2 separate regions of the Homo sapiens genome follow, and region 2 is linked to region 1. The links come from fine-mapping of genetic effects on gene expression. Tissue or cell type: whole blood. Region 1 holds a variant in brackets; the other region holds the start of a gene. All regions are shown on one strand. Distances are from middle to middle.

What was found. PIP is the estimated chance that this variant, and not a neighbour inherited with it, causes the effect.
Region 2: LGALS3 starts here. The variant in region 1 is fine-mapped to the expression of LGALS3 in whole blood (INTERVAL, PIP above 0.99).

What each region holds. Positions count from the first base shown.
Region 1 is chr14:55,277,198-55,285,197 of GRCh38, reverse strand. The region is part of intron 1 of FBXO34 (F-box protein 34); the gene reads right to left. It also overlaps the pseudogene RPL34P28. Among named protein-coding and RNA genes, the nearest start is that of FBXO34-AS1, 9.1 kb to the right of the region's middle. RefSeq lists an enhancer at 5,488-5,587. The variant TA/A (reference allele first, on the strand shown) is at 3,942.
Region 2 is chr14:55,124,365-55,132,594 of GRCh38, reverse strand. LGALS3 (galectin 3) reads right to left here and starts at 3,343. Exons shown (of 6, transcript NM_002306.4): 1 at 3,295-3,343. LOC124903319 reads right to left here. Exons shown (of 3, transcript XM_047432036.1): 3 at 7,128-7,545. The coding sequence ends at 7,491. RefSeq lists an enhancer at 2,508-2,697 and a silencer at 3,048-3,647.

The DNA of each region.
Region 1 (8,000 bases):
TTCTCCATGTTGGTCAGGCTGGTCTCAAACTCCTGAACTCACGTGATCCGCCCACCTCGGCTTCCCAAACTGCTGGTATTACAGGCGTGAGCCACTGTGCCCGGCCGGAACAATTCTTGAAAGAAGCTTTACAACTGATCTTTGCAGTTTTTTTTTTTTTTTAACCTCACCTGGCCAGAGAGAATGTTCTCTGCATTTTAAAATAGGACAATTAAAAGCAAGATAAACATGGTAAAGATTCACAAAACAAAACAAGACAACTGCAGTAAGAACCAAGGTAAGGCCAGATATGGTGCTCAAGCCTGCACTCTCACAGCATTTTGGGAGGCTGAGGAGGGAGGATCACTTGAGTCCAGGAATTCAAGACCAGCCTGGGCAAAGGCGTGAAACCCTATCTCTACAAAAGATACAAAAATCAGCTGGACGTGGTGGCACATGCCTGTAGTCCCATCTACTCAGGAGGATGAGATGGAAAGATTGCTTGAGCCTGGGTGGTTGAGGTGCAGTGAGCTAAGAATGCACCACTACACTCTAGCTTGGGTGACAGAGACCCTGTTTCAAAAAAAAAAAAAAAAAGTAACAAAATTTTAGGTAACCACAAACACTCAAAATCCAGAGGCTAGGTCCCTGAATCAAATAAAAAGAGAAGAAAATAAATCATTCACTTTTTTTTTTTTTTTTTTTGGAGACAGAGGTTCACTCTTGTTGCCCAGGCTGGAGTGCAATGGCACAACCTCGGCTCACTGCAACCTCCACCTCCGAGTTCAAGAGATTCTCCTGCCTCAGCCTCCCGAGTAGCTGGGATTACAGACATGTACCACCACGCCCGGCTAATTTTGTATTTTTAGTAGAGACAGGGTTTCACCATGTTGGTCAGGCTGGTCTCGAACTCCTGACCTCAGGTGATCTATGAGCATCAGCCTTCCAAAGTGCTGGGACTGCAAGCGTGAGCCACCGCACCCAACCCATATACTGTAATTTTTAAGTGTAAAAAAATTTTATACCCTACAGTCTTAAAAATACATGCAATTAGCACTAGGCATGGTGGTGCATGCTTGTAAGTCCTAGCTACTCAAGAGGCTGAGGCAAGAGGACTGCTTGAGCTCAGGAGTCTGAGGCTGCAGTAAGCTATGACCGTGCCACTGCACTGCAGTCTGAGCAAAAGAATGAGACCCTACCTCTAAAAATACATACACATACATACACATACACACACACACAGACACACACACACACACACACACACACACACATAGTCTTAGAATGTAAAGTCACGTTTTAATTTTAGGAAAAGTTATAACCTCCTACCAGCTAATAAAACAAAAATGTGAACTCTCCAGTAAAGTTAGTATTTTTTTGGACTTTAATAACCAATTTTATTATATTTACCTAAAAGGGGGGAAAACACAAAGTGTTAAATAAAAAGAATAAATTCTTGGCTGGGCATGGTGGCTCACGTGCCTGTAATCCCAGCACTTTGGGAGGCCAAAGCAGGCGGATCATGAGGTTAGGAGTTCAAGAACAGCCTAACCAACATGGTGAAACCCCATCCCTACTAAAAATACATTAGTCGGGCATGGTGGTTGGCTCCTGTAATCCCAGCTACTCAGGAGGCTGAGGCAGGAGAATCGCTTGAACCCAGGGGGTGGAGGTTGCAGTGAGCTGAGATCACACCACTGCACTCCAGCCTGGGCAACAGAGTGAGACTGTCTCAAAAAAAAAAAAAAAGAAAGAAAAAAAGAATAAATTCTTACAGACTGCTATTTGCCAAAGAATATAAATATCTGTAAAATTATGCTAAAAGAAAAAGTGATGGAAATATAACTAATACACTTAACATACTACCTCGCATATAAAATAGGTTGTAATAAATCGGCTGTGAAATTCCACAAGTTAAAAATGTTGGTGTATTTTTTTTTAGCTTTTTATCAATCTAATCATAGCCTATGTTAAGTAAAATACAGCAAAGAAAATGTCAAATGAAAGACGATTCAATAAAGCATAAAGCTCTTAAGGCCCTCCCTGGACTTATTTTCAGGAAACATTTTGATAGTCCTTCGTTCCACAAATGAGCTAAAATATAGTGACGATGGTAGAGCTCTTCATCCAAGAAAGAAGACAGCCTGAACAAGAGAAACCTATTCCCTAGGGTTAAAGTGACTAGGGTTTGTAAAAAAGTACTGACAACCTCCAGAGAATAATCCTGATGACTGAACTTGAAATAAAACCTCTTGCCCTACTTTGGAAACAAGTTTGCCTCTCCTGGTTTCTGGACAATAAAGCAAAAGTGTCCTTTGAGACTACCTTACGAAACTCAAATTTCATCTTCAGAAACTCCAACTAATCAATAATTCCCTATTCTGTAGTTCCAAGAATGATTCTACAGTTTCAAATAAACTACTCAATGAACAAAATTAATCTTTTTAATTGTCATAAAGCAAATGAACACCAACTCCTACAAATGAATCTGCTAAAAAGTGTCTAAGTTAACAAGCAGAGTAGAAAACACAGCAACTGCTTTTTTTTCCGGGGACATTGTCTACAGTCACTCAGAATGGTCCAGTGTATGACATACAATCATCAGCTTTCCTACAACACAGCCTTCAACAGAAATAGGGTGTCCCAAGCCCCTGGCAATAGAACTGTTTACCAACCAAGAAGGTTGGGAAAGGCACAAGATTGGCATGTGGCATGTGCCCAGACAGACTTCGAGGGGTTTGTGCCGTGAGATTTAAAGTTCTTATAATGCTGTCTACAATGAAAAAAACATGTCAGCAGGGCCTATCGTGGTCCAATGTGTGCTAAATGAATCCATGACAGGATCAAGGGTGCCTTCCTTATCAAGAAGCAGAAAATCATTGTGAAAGTGTTGAAAGCACAAGCACAGAGTCAAAAAGCTAAATTTGGCGGGGCGCGGTGGCTCAGGCCTGTAATCCCAGCACTTTGGGAGGCTGAGGCGGGCGGATCATGAGGTAAGGAGATCAAGATCATCTTGGCCAACATGGAGAAACCCTGTCTACTAAAATACAGAAAATTAGCCAGGCATGGTGGCATGCGCCTGTAGTCCCAGCTGCTCGGGAGGCTGAGGCAGGGGAATCGCTTGAACCCGGGAGGCGGAGATTGCAGAGAGCCGAGATCGTGCCACTGCACTCCAGCCTGGCAACAGAATAAGACTCTGTATCAAAAAAAAAAAAAAAAAAAAAAAAGCTAAATTTAAAAATGAAACTTACTGGAATAAACAATTCATTTCAAAAAAACGTAAAGCTACAAATTTACATAGCCCAGCTATGTCCTTTCTAAAGATAAGGAAAAGCTAAGCCTTCGATATGTGCCTACAATTCAGGGATAATATATGAAGCTTAGAATTTATTAGGGGAGATAAGGCTCATTACACGTGAAACAAAGAGCAACAAGCAACAGTATACAATGAAATGCCAACGTGCTGAGTGGCTAAGTACTCAATATACACCATAGAAATTTGGGAAATGGTAAGGATGTTACAGAGGGATTGGTGAGTCCAACAAGGTTTTATGGGAATAGACTTCGTAAAACAGATGTAATATTTGGAGAAATGAAAGGAGAAAGCAAGGCTGAGGAAACTGCCTGAATACCAGGTTTATTGCAGGGAGTCCCAGAAAATGAAGAGGAAGGGTGGGACTATCTTATGACGTCTAAACCTAGAGCAGGTTCTCATTTGGAGAGTAACATCATCCCGCTGGAATTTTTGTCCAACTAACCTGCCAACTGTGTATAAGATTGAAGGGGGCAAATATGGAATTATAAAAAAACGTCATAGAGACAATTACAGAAATCTAAATTCACAATGATCATTGGTCTAGATCTGTCCTATCCAATACAGCAGCCACTAACCACATGTGGCCTTTGGCACCTGAAATATTAGTAGTCTGAACTGAGATGTGCTTTTTTTTTTTTTTTTTTTT[TA/A]AGGAGTCGGGTCTCACTCTGTCATCCAGGCTGGAGTCCAGTGGCACGATCATAGCTCACCATAACCTAAAACTCCTGTGTTCAAGAGATTCTCCTGCCTCAGCCTCCCAAGCAGCTAGGACTACAGGCATGGGCTACCATGCCCAAAGGGATATGCTTTAAGTCTAAAATGCACACCAGACTGTAAACTATTTCAGTAATTTTTATATTGATTTCAATGTGAAATCATGTTCTGGATATATTGTGTTAACGTATTTTTTAAATATTTTTCACCTGTTTCTTTTTCCTTTTTTAATGTGGCTAACTAGAAAATGGTAAATTACATACATACAAGGTTCATATTATAGTCATCCCTCAGTATCCATGGCGGATTGGTTCCAGGACCTCCCTTGGACACCAAACTCCATGGATGCTCAAGTTCCTGATATATGGCTGGGCGTGGTGGTTCACGCCTGTAATCCCAGCACTTCGGAAGGCTGAGGCGGGAGGATCACGAGGTCAGGAGATCGAGACCATCCTGGCTAACATGGTGAAACCCCGTCTCTACTAAAAATACAAAAAATTAGCCGGGCGAGGTGGCGGGCACCTGTAGTCCCAGCTACTTGGGAGGCTGAGGCAGGAGAATGGTGTGAACCTGGGAGGCGGAGCTTGCAGTGAACCAAGATCGCGCCACTGCACTCCAGCCTGGGTGACAGAGTGAGACTCCATCTCAAAAAAAAAAAAAAAAAGTTCCTGATATAAAATGGTGTAGTATTTGCATATAACCTACGCACATTCTACCGCATACTTTAAACAAACTCTAGATTACTTAAAATACCTAATACAATGTAAACGCTATGTAAAGAGTTATGCTGTACTGTCATGACAAGAAAAAAATAATCTGTACACGTTCAATACAGATGTAATTTTTTTTCCTCAGGTATTTTCCATCTGAGGTTGGTTGGATCCATGGATGATAAACCCACAGATAGAGGGCTATTTCTACTCAACAGCGCTGCTCTACATAGTTATCTCAACTTTTCTGGTTCTCCCATTCCCATTTTTTAAAACATTTTTAACATGTACCCACAAATATGATGTGATATATATACATGTATGTACATATATCATGTACTAATATATTTTACATACATATAAAATGTATATAAATACTAGTAGGATGAGAAGAATAAACAGAAGTTTCAATATTTTTCTTTCCACAATCCAATGGACTAATCCACACACTACCACACTGGAGGTTTAAGATATTATCAAAGAGACTAAACACAAAAAGGCAAATGCAAATGAAAGTTTCACTAAAACTTAATGACTGGTTGACCATGGAGGTAAAGGGAGAGGATGGACATAATGCTATTTGCTACTCAGTATCTACTGGCTCTTTATTTAGGGGCACTTAGCAAATTCTTCCAGATCCTGCCATCCACTGCTTCTTGATTTTCCCTTGGAAATCCACTTCCTCTCCCATGATGCTGGTTAGGAGGGAATGACCCCCAGCTCCAGAGGTAGGCCCAGGCTGGCTAAACTAATTAGCAAATCCTATTTCTCTTGCCTTAATGGTTCATTCAGAAATGACAACATAACCCAAAGTCAATGAGACACAAGAATACATTTCTTGAACTTCTAGGAAGAGAAACTCTTCTAGCAGTGGTTCTTAAGCTGAGGTTCACACATACTCCAAGGGTTTATATATAGAATTCAGGGTGTCGTTAAACTGAGAAAAACAAATTACATCTTTACTTTAACCTCTAACTGAAATTTAGCATTTCCTTTCACTGTGAATTCAGCCAAAACACCACAATAGTATTATATTAGCAATATCTGTTCATTTTGTCACCAGTAGAAATCACAGTTTATTTATTTTCCTATCACATGATCTTTCGTTACAGATACCTCCAAATAGTAATAATACTCATCACCACTTGGAAATTATTAGACCCCACTAAATATATTTTTTCCTTTTTTTTTTTTTTTGACGGAGTCTCGCTTATGTCGCCCAGGCTGGAGTGCAGTGGCATGACCTCAGCTCACTGCAGCCTCCGTCTCCCGGGTTCAAGCAATTCTCTGCCTCAGCCTACCAAGTAGCTGGGATTACAGGCACCCACCACCATGCCCAGCTAATTTTTGTATTTTTAGTAGATGGGGTTTCACCATCTTGACCAGGCTGGTCTCCTGACCTCGTGATCCACCCACCTCGGCCTCCTAAAGTGCTGGGATTACAGGCGTGAGCCACCACGCCCGGCCTTCACTAAATCTCTTTAATAAAGAAACAGGGTGGGCATGGTGGCTCACGCCTATAATCCCAGCATTTTGGGAGGCCAAGGCAGGAGGATGGCTTGAGCCCAGGAACTCGAGACTAGCCTGGGCAACATGGCGAGACCTCATCTCTACAAAAAATTTAAAAATTAGCTGCGTGTGGTGGTGCGCACCTGTGGTCCCAGCTACTCAGAAGGCTGAGGTGAGAAGATCACTTGAGCCTAGGAGGTTCAGCTGCAGTGAGCCTTGTTAGCACCACTGTACTCCAGCCTAGGCAACAGATCAAGCACCTGTCTCAAAAAAAGAAACAGGTATTACCAACAATTTTTTAAAATACTTTTATAACTACATTTTAATGTAACTAGTTTTCTTTGTACAGTAGTCCTATGTATTTTCCTCTGGACTTGATAGCATGAGGTTGTAGGGCTTGAGCTGCAACAAACATGTGAACACAAAGGGACCAAAACCACGGAAGCTGAGCTCATTAAATAAAGGAAGAGAAAGATTAAGTCTGATCACACAAGTATAACTGAATCAAGCCTCAACTTTGGACTTTTTAATATTGTGAGCCAGTGAATTTGAGTTGGTTTTCTGTTACATCTGCATTAAAAAAATCTAAATGATACAGTTTTCAATAGTTTCTACCTCAGAAAACTGGAACAATACCCATCCCTTTGGACTGAAAAAGGAAACTTAGAAAAAGCTTAACTTCGTCACAGTGAGGGAATCTGGGGAAAATGAGTTCAGTTCCTCACAAACTGAATGTACTGCAGACTCAATAATGCAATAAAGCTCTCACATGCACTTCCTGTTTTACATATAGGCAATGCTAAGGTTTCACATATGACCTAAGTATGGGCAAGCAGACATACCTGCATAAGATACAGAGAACAGAAACAACAGTCCTACCCAAGGAAGTTAAACTTCTGGTAGCGGCTTTCTGATTCAACGACATGGTTCTCGGTGCTGCGGTGGCAGTAGCCCCCTTGGCAGGCAAGCTCTGCAGTGTCATTCAGGGGTTTGTTTCTAGAAGTTCAGACTAATCTGTTGATTCAGCCCGCTCAAAGTTTACATATCTTTCTCTCAATAAATCCTGTTTGCTACAACTACTTAAAGCAAATGATCTTGCTACAGGATCCTGAATAAGCCAAAGTAAAAAGGGATATACAAAAGAAGCATCTTCCTAGTAGTCAGAAACCCAACAAGAGTTAACAGTTTATGAATAAAAATGTAGGCACGACTTGGATAGAATTATAACTGAGAAGCCCTAATTCAAGATCCACTCCTAAGAAACTTGCGTCCTCTGAATTCATGTAACATTTACTTATCTCTCTTCAGATACCTAATTACAACCCAGACTAAGCCCGTGGTACATGCCAGTTACTCAGAAGGCTGAGGATCACTTGAGCCCAAAAGTTCAAGGCTGCAGTACACTATAATTGGGCCTTTGAACAGCCACTGCACTCCAAACTGGGCAAGATCTAGTCTCTTTAAAAAATAATAATAAAAAAAAAAGCAGCCAGGCATGGTGGCACACACCTGTAGACCCAACTACTCAAGAGGCTGAGGAAGGAGGACGGCTTGAGCCCAGGAGCTCAATGTTACAGTGAGCTATGAATTGCACCACTGTACTTCAGTCTGGGCAACAAAGCGAGACTGTCTCAAAAAACAAAACAAAACAAAAAATTAAATCATATAGCAAGGGCTATGTTCTTCATTTCTTTATACTCTGAACACCAAGCACAATGCGACCCTAATGTACTTCTAACAAAGTAGACCATTTGAACAAGTAGTTTCAGAAGGAA
Region 2 (8,230 bases), 150 kb after region 1:
CCATCTCAAGAAAAAGAAAAGAAAAGCATTATAACTGATGCTCTTTTGAAATCAAGATTATTAACCTCAAAACTTTCAGGAAAACAAAAAAGACATCTATTCAGATAAGTATCATCCTTACTTGCCTGAAATTTTTTTCTTTTTTCTTTTCAGATGAGTAGTTTACAGAGAGAGACATACAATCAAATGTCACAAATCTTCCCACTCTACAGACACTATAGATATGTGAACCCCACCCTGGTGTTTCCAGGATCAGAGAATTTTGAACAGTCAGAGGGGAAAAAAAAAAAACTTCAAAAAATAAACTAAAAGTAGAGAAATACTAGCTGGGTCTCCACATTTGTAAACACCTACAGTAAGCAGTTCAGTGTAGCTTCAGAATAAGGAATTTAAACATGAGTTAGAATACAGACCATTTTAATCGGCTGTTAATTGGTAGCTTTTCCCTTTAACAAAGAGTAGCTATCCGCTGCACTATGCTATTCTAGGCCCACCCAGCAATCAGTCCAGTTGTCTGGGTTCCCAGGAACACTTCTGAAATGTCTGCTCATAAAGGTCCCTGACCTGTGCGCAACCGTCACAGAAGAAGACTACTTCCTGAGCCCCTAGGCACTGCCCTACACTGCTCCTCAAGTAACACAAGAGGCAGTCTACTTCCTGTCCTTGCTGAAACACAGAGCAGGACTTGAGGAAAGCCCATTTGCCAAAGACAAATTCAGTGATGCTAAGTTGGAATAAGGGGAACTGGTCCTTTCCTAGGATTTCTTTCTCATCATAGCTCCCTGGCATCAAGGAAGGTAGAGTTACTTTCTGCTTCTCATGACTGATCTTCCCCCCTACGGAAAAGCTGAACAGTTCAAAAGAGAACACATGACACTTGGTCAATAGCGAACTGGAAGTATACAGCAAGCACAGCCTAGACTGGTTCTTAAGTTACCCACTCAGAATTTAATGAGAAGATCCAGTTCAGGCACCAGACACAAGGAGCTACCCTTGAGTGGGAGCCTGTGTCCCAAACGATCACAGGAAAGAAGAGCTATGTTTGAGATCAGTTACCACAAGTATCAAGTACATAAGTTTACAAGCCACTTGGCATTTAAGGTCAACACGAGATTCTGAAGGCATACTACATGAACAAAGGTCTTGGCTGCAGTTAAGGTTTAGAGTCTGGCTAATGAGGGTTCTATGTAAAAAGGTACCTAAATTATACATGAGACCAGCATTAGCCTCTTGACCTCACTAAGTGAAAAGTCTTTGTAAAGCACCTATGCATATTTGTAGTACAGCGAACTATCATAGTTTAAAGACCGCTTAACAGAGCGAGACACCTATTCTACTTGGACACAGCTAGTTTTCGGGGTCAATCCATCAGGCGGTACTCGTCCTCTTCTGCTTCTTACGTAACTTAGTGAGGCATCCTCCTAGCACTTCTAAGTGCTAAATATTCAAGGACCATCATCAAACTTCTCCCCAGAATCTGGACTAAGTGCTGATTTTAAACATCACCTCTAAATATTATGAATTTAGGAAGTTGCTTAAGTCCCCCAAAGATCAAGGATGGGGTATGATCATCTTTAGAATGAGAGACCCTACCCTAAGGATTGAGAGTCAATGTCTAAAAGGGAGACTATTGTTGTAGAAAAGTAAATGATCATTATTCAACTTTACCTTTTATGGAAACACACAATTTCCTAGTATGAAATGTTTATAAACTTGAGGTAGGCCAGGCGCAGTGGCCCACGCCTATAATCCCAGCACTTTAGGAGGCCGAGGCAGGCGGGTCACCTGAGGTCGGGGGTTCGAGACCAGCCTGACCAACATGGAGGGACCCCCCCCCCCCCACCACCACCACCACGAAAAATACAAAATTAGCCGGGCATGGTGGCGCATGCCTGTAATCCCAGCTACTCGGGAGGCTGAGGCAGGAGAATCGCTTGAACCCGGTAGGCAGAGGTTGCGGTGAGCCGAGATAGTGCCGTTGCACTCCAGCCTGGGCAACAAGAGCGAAACTGCGTCTCAAAAAAAAAAAAAACCTTAGGTAAACAAATCAGAACTTTGGAAGCTGACGAAAGCTTTTTCTTCTCAGGCCCTGTGCCCAAGTAGTTAATTGTATCAGTCTCATTTTCTTCAGAATTAACTGAGCCTTCTCCCATTTCTTCCCCAGAATCCTAGAGACAGCCTGAGTCACTGAGGTCCAGGTGTCCTCATTGCGCAGCAACCCAATTCCCAGAGTCACTTTACAAACATTCCGCAGTCTCTGGAACCCGCATGGCGAACTTGAAGGGTAAGGCTGAAACCTAAGTCCCAGCCTCCACCATGCGTCCCCGACTCCCTGGACCTGAACGCCTACTGCTCAGAGGGCAATCGTTTTAGTGTTTCTATTTGAGCACCCGATAATTCAGAATAAACTCTCAAACATGTTGTGAAAGCCCCCCGGTAGGGCTCTGCACGCTAGGACCAACATTTTGCCACACCCACCATTTCCTGGGCACAGACAGTCTGGGCAGGGAGGGGCATTTGATTCGGAAAAGCTTAGAGTTTGCAGTCTTTGCAAAGCCGGGTCATGCCCACTCAGGCCATGGGGCAAGCACCATTTTCTGTGGGATCAGCAACCAGACAGCGGCTGCAGCCCGGCCGCAGCTGGTCCCGGTGGAAGAACTCATTCGCGCTCCACAGCGAGATCTCCTCCAAGTCCAGCCTCAGCTGATGCTCAAAAGGGGCCGGGCCAGCCAAGCTGTGGGTCCCGGGAGGCGCCCTATGCAGTCCTGGGAAGTCCCTTCGCTCCCCCGCGGCCGTGATCTGGGGAAGGGTGACGGGGCTCCAACCCCAATTAGAGAAACTGGAGCGGCCGTCTGGTTTGCTGAGCGAGCCCCTCCGCCTCCCCTCGCAGCGGGACCTGGTGGGACTGGGGTGACCAGACTGCGGCTCGTCACCGGATGGGGCTTACTCTGGGGCCGCAGAGCGCAGGCGGCGGAGGTGCGACGGCGGCGAAGCCCACGAGGCTCCGCAGAAGGTGGCCCGTGCCGCCCCGGGGACGTGTGTGGGTCTCGTAAGGTGCTGCCAACCTTCCCCGAACGCCAGCGCCCTCGATAATCAAAGGCGACTGCCCCGGGCCCAGATCGCTGCCCGCCGCCCCGCTCCTGGAGGGCAGAGCACAGGCTGTGGGGCTCTCCGCGCGCGCCCCGGCCCGGTCCCGGGGAGCCGAACCCTCTCCGGACCGCGCCCCAAGCAGCGCCCGGGCGCCCTCTCCCCTGCCCGGCCGGAGCCGCGTCCCCCGCGCCCCGCGCAGCTCACCGCTCGTTGGCTGGCTCCGGACGGCTGCTGGCGAGGAGGTGCTGCGGGCGCCGGCGGGGCGGTGGCTCCGAGCCTCAAATACTCCCAGCCCCGCCCGGCCCGCCTCTCCCGAGGCGGGGCGGCGCCCCTGCCCAGCCAGTCCTCTCCCCGGACCAGGCTGGGCGAGCCCCGCGCCGGCCAGACACCCCGAGCCGCCGCCGCAGGGGCGACCAGGAAGCTCCCGACGGGGAGAGCGCGGGCACTGAGGGGCGCGACCTCCGCTGCCACCGTTAGGTTCCGTGGCGCTCCCGGGACCTGGGCTGCGGCCGCGTCTGTCCCCCGCCCTCTCCAGAATCACCTGAGTGAAGAATTCGCTGAGAGGAATTCAATTAATAGGTTGCTTTATTTGTAGAATACAAAACCAAAAATCTTTTCAATGTCTATTCCCTAGGGAACTGACTACAAATTGACTACTTATTCTAGATCAATAGGCCTAGTCTCAAAGCAATTCCCTTATAAAGCAATTAATCAGACAACTCTTTAACACATTTTACACAGGAAATTCACATTATATATATATATACCCTCCTTTTAACTTCACCTTATCTTTTTGTTGGAAGAAAGAGATAAGTATTATTATCTCATTTTTACTGTCAGGGTGCTATAGTCTGAATGTTTATATCCCGCCAAAGTTCATATGTTGAAATCCTAACCCTCACGGTGATGTATTAGGAAGTGGAGGCCTTGGGAAGTGATTAGGTCATAGGGGCAGGGTCCTTATGAATGAGATTGGTGCCCTAATAAAAGAGGCCGGAGAGAGACCCCTTGCCACTTCCACCTTGTGAAGACACAGCCAGAAGGCTCCCTCTGTGAACCAGAAAGCAGGCCCTCACCAGACATCAAATCTGCTGGCCTGGATCTTGGATTTCCCGACCTTCAGAACTGTGGGAAATAAATGTATATTGCCTATAAGCTACCCAGTTTATGATATTTTGTTACAGAAGCCCAAACAGACTAAAAGAGAAAATGATTTACTTATCCAAGCTCACTCATGTCTAGGAACAAAATCCAGAAATCCTGGCTCTTACACTTTACCTGGAAAAGCACCAGGCCAAAGAATCCTTGCAGGTTGGAACAAGGATCTCTGAGGAAAAAAAAAAAAATTAAGGGGGGTAGGGGAAGAATCTTTGCAGGGACTGGCTTATGTAAACTATGGAGAAAACCAGGTATCATCTGGTTCCTAAATAATTCCTGTAGCCCTTATAGTAACCAATTAATAACATAAAGATAAATTATTTCCTGCAGTTTTTCAACTTAGGGAAATGTTCCTGTGAAGGACTCACTTGATGGAATTGAGAAGCTGTCTTGGCATTCTCTAGGATAAACTTGAAAGTGTCTTAGTGGTTGGCACGGTTCCTGCAACATCGTCCCCTCTAGGCTTGCACATAGAAGTCACAGTGTGGCTGGGGATTATTTATGCAAGTTTGAACTCTTATCTGAAGAGGTAGCCTGGCAACCAATTTATTTGAATGGATCACCCATAGTAAATGACTAACCTCTGGGTAGTAAAAAGGTATCACCCAAAGGAATGCCCTTGGTCTCCAGGGAAAATGCTATAAATCTTAAGACTTTGAGTCATGAGGCCTCATGGCCAGGAGTGGTACCCTTAGAGGGTTAGCCATTGGTAATAAGAAAAGTAGATAGCCAAATGAATTGCTGTGGAGGCAAGGGATGAATCACACTCTTGCCTTTTCTTCTGGTCATTTCAGAGATAGACAAAGTTCATGCCCTGGCTACTTAGGGGGCTTGCTTACACCTGATTGTATGATCAGACATGCTTTTGGCTTCCCTTCCTTACTTGTACATCCCCATGAATACTTTGGTGCCAACTTCATGCCCCATAAAGCTAACAAAAGGATCCTGCTATGATCAGGGTGTGCCTGGGAATTTATAATTTGTACACATGCAATAAACGGCTCTTTATTACCCAATCCAAAGTCACATCCCTTTTCTAAGATAAGCGTAAAAAGGAACCCAATAAAATCAATTAAGATATCATTGAGTAACTTCTATGTACAGCTCACTGTGTTATTTGAAATAGGGACAAGGCAAGTGTTAGCCCTCAAACAAAAAGGCTGTCTGGTTTCTACGGATGCAGAGATTGTAAGCCGCTGATAAAAGCAAGGATTCTAAGAGAGGCATCTCCACAGGAGGGAAAGGAGGAAACTTGGGAAAGCAGGTGGCTGTCCAGAAGGTCAGGAGGGAAGCTGCGTGAGAACTTCAGTTAGAGCCAGAAGAGAGTAGGAGATGAAGATGAGAACAAAAAGGGAAAGTCTTTAAGGATAAGCAGAAAAGAGAAAGAAAGACAGTAATTGGAGAAGAAAGCAGAGCCGATTATTTATTTATTTATTTTATTTTTTTGAGACGGAGTTTTGCTCGGCTCACCGCAACCTCCACTCCCAGGTTCAAGTGATTCTCCTCCTGCCTCAGCCTCCCCAGTAGCTGGGATTACAGGCATGCACCACCACCCTGGCCAATTTTTAGTAGAGATGGGGTTTCTCCACGTTGGTCAGGCTAGTCTCAAACTCCCTACCTCAGGTGATCTGCCCACCTCAGCCTCCCAAAGTGCTGGGATTACAGGCGTGAGCCACTGCGCCCGGCAGCAAAGCCAGTTTTTTAAAGTCACCTTTTAAATAGGAAAATAGAACCAGAGAGAAAGGAAAAAGAGAGGAGAATAGAAGAATTATGAAAATATAAAAAGTGAGTGAACCTGGAACAAGCCAGAAAAGAGGAGAGAAATTTCCCAGAAATTAGCACTACAGTGGGCCAGATAGGGAAAGAATGTCTCACAAAAGCTGAAGTTCCTATGAAATATAAACAAAAATCTTGGTATTAAGTCGTGTAGACAGCAGAATACAGGAACAGCCAGAAAAGAGCAAAGCGGCTGCTTTCCAGTTTTCACATTTGGACCCTGGGCAGCCCAGGCAAGTTTGGCAATTCTGTGTCTACATGGTGTTAACACATCTGGGTGACAAGTGAAGAGTTGAGTCAGGCCTCAGGGCACTTGGTCTTTCTGGTGCCAACAACTGGAATCTGGGTGGCTGGCAGACTTAGGGACTGAAAGAGAGGCTGAGTGTTCTGGGGAACCATTTATGCCTTGAAGACAAAGTAATTTCCAGTTTCAGAACGAAATGACTGTGGCTGTCTGCTGTTTCTAGTCCCAGTTATCTATATGTACTTACTCATATCCAAGGCCTTTAGTGGGGGCCTAATATATGCCTCAACTATTTTGCAAAATCCACCCCTTCTAGCTTGCTGAATGAACAGGCTCACCAAAACCTGGTCAACAAATGAAATAGGGTTGGTGGCAGTAATGTGCCCAATGATGGTTTACAAGGTCTTACCACCTGGGTTGCAACTAGAGCCCCCTGGGACAGAGTGAGAGCCAGAACCTGCTTAGAAGGGAGCTAGCCCCTCCTGCCTTGGATGGGCAGGCCAACAGCATCAGGGAGAAGAGGTGTCCCAGGTGCCACCGCAGGTGCAAAACCCCTTCTCCAGCCCAACCTCAGCCCTGGCCACCTCAGCCTAACCTTCCTTGTTTGTCCTTCAAGCCTAACCCAGGCCTGTCTTCAGCACTAGCCATCACCAAACCCACATTCCCACCAGTCACTTCTGTCTATAGACAGGAAGTGGCTGCTGCCACTACTACTGCCCTTATTGCAGCCACACCCAGGGCTACGCTCTTAACCACGCTACAGCATTAACCTGCCTCTTGAGGAAGTATAAAACCAGGGAAAGGGATAGAGAGTGTGCCAGCTTGCTAAGGCTGCCATAACAAAGCACCAGGAACTGAGTAACTTAAATAACAGAAATTTATTTTCTCCCAATTCTGGAGGCCAGAAGTCCAAGATCAGATGTTGGAAGGGTGGGTTTCTTCTGAGGCCTCTCTCCTTGGCTTTTACGTCTCTCTATATCTTCACATGGTCTTTCTTATATGCCTGTCTGTGTCCTAATCTCCTCTTGTTAGAAGGACACATTCGTATTAGATTAAGACCTCATTTTAACTTAATTGCCCCCTTAAAGGCCCTATCTCCAAAAACAGTCACATTCTGACGTATCCGGGGCTCGGATGGTACTGACATAAATGTTTTTGCAAAGAGAGAGGGACACAATTCATCCCATATCAGAGAAGGGCAGGGGAGGAGCTGGCTGTCAGTTCAGCAAGTGTGGTCAGCAGAGATTTCTCCAAGGAGGTGGTATTTGAGCTGAGACCTAAATAAGGAGTAGGGGCAGGCTTGTAAAGATCCGAGAAAGTGGGAATGGCAAGAATAACACTGTGAGTTGCAACAGGGACCTGTGCCAGCATAGACACCCATGGGGCACCTCCTGTCCACTCCTCTCAGAATCCCCTCCCTGCCATCCTCATAAAGTGGCCCGGCAACCGAGCTAGCACTTCATGACCTCTCACCTTAAGTGGAGTTGGGAGAATTGTGGAGTCCTAATTGGGGGCTGGGGGAAGTGGAGAATTGGGCTGGTGGGATCAAGGGAAAGCAAAAAGAGACAGCAGGCTGGGCGCGGTGGCTCACGCCTGTAATCCCAGCACTTTGGGAGGCAGAGATGGGTGGATCGCTTGAGGTCAGGAGTTCGAGAACAGCCTGGCCAACATGGTGAAACCCCATCTCTACTAAAAATACAAAAATTAGCCAGGCATGGTGGCAGGTGCCTGTAGTCCAGCCTGGGCAACAGAGTGAGATTCTGTCTAAAAAAAAAAAAAAAAAAAAAAAGGCAGATAAGCTATAAGTCTGCCTTTCTTCATGGTCCAGGACACATAGCCCTCTTGCGCAAATAACTCACAATCTGCCTGCTCCCAGCTCTCTCTAGACCCTTGGCTGATAGAAAAAATGCACGTTAGCTCACTGCAACCTTGGCATCATCAGTACTACACAAAACTCTTCAG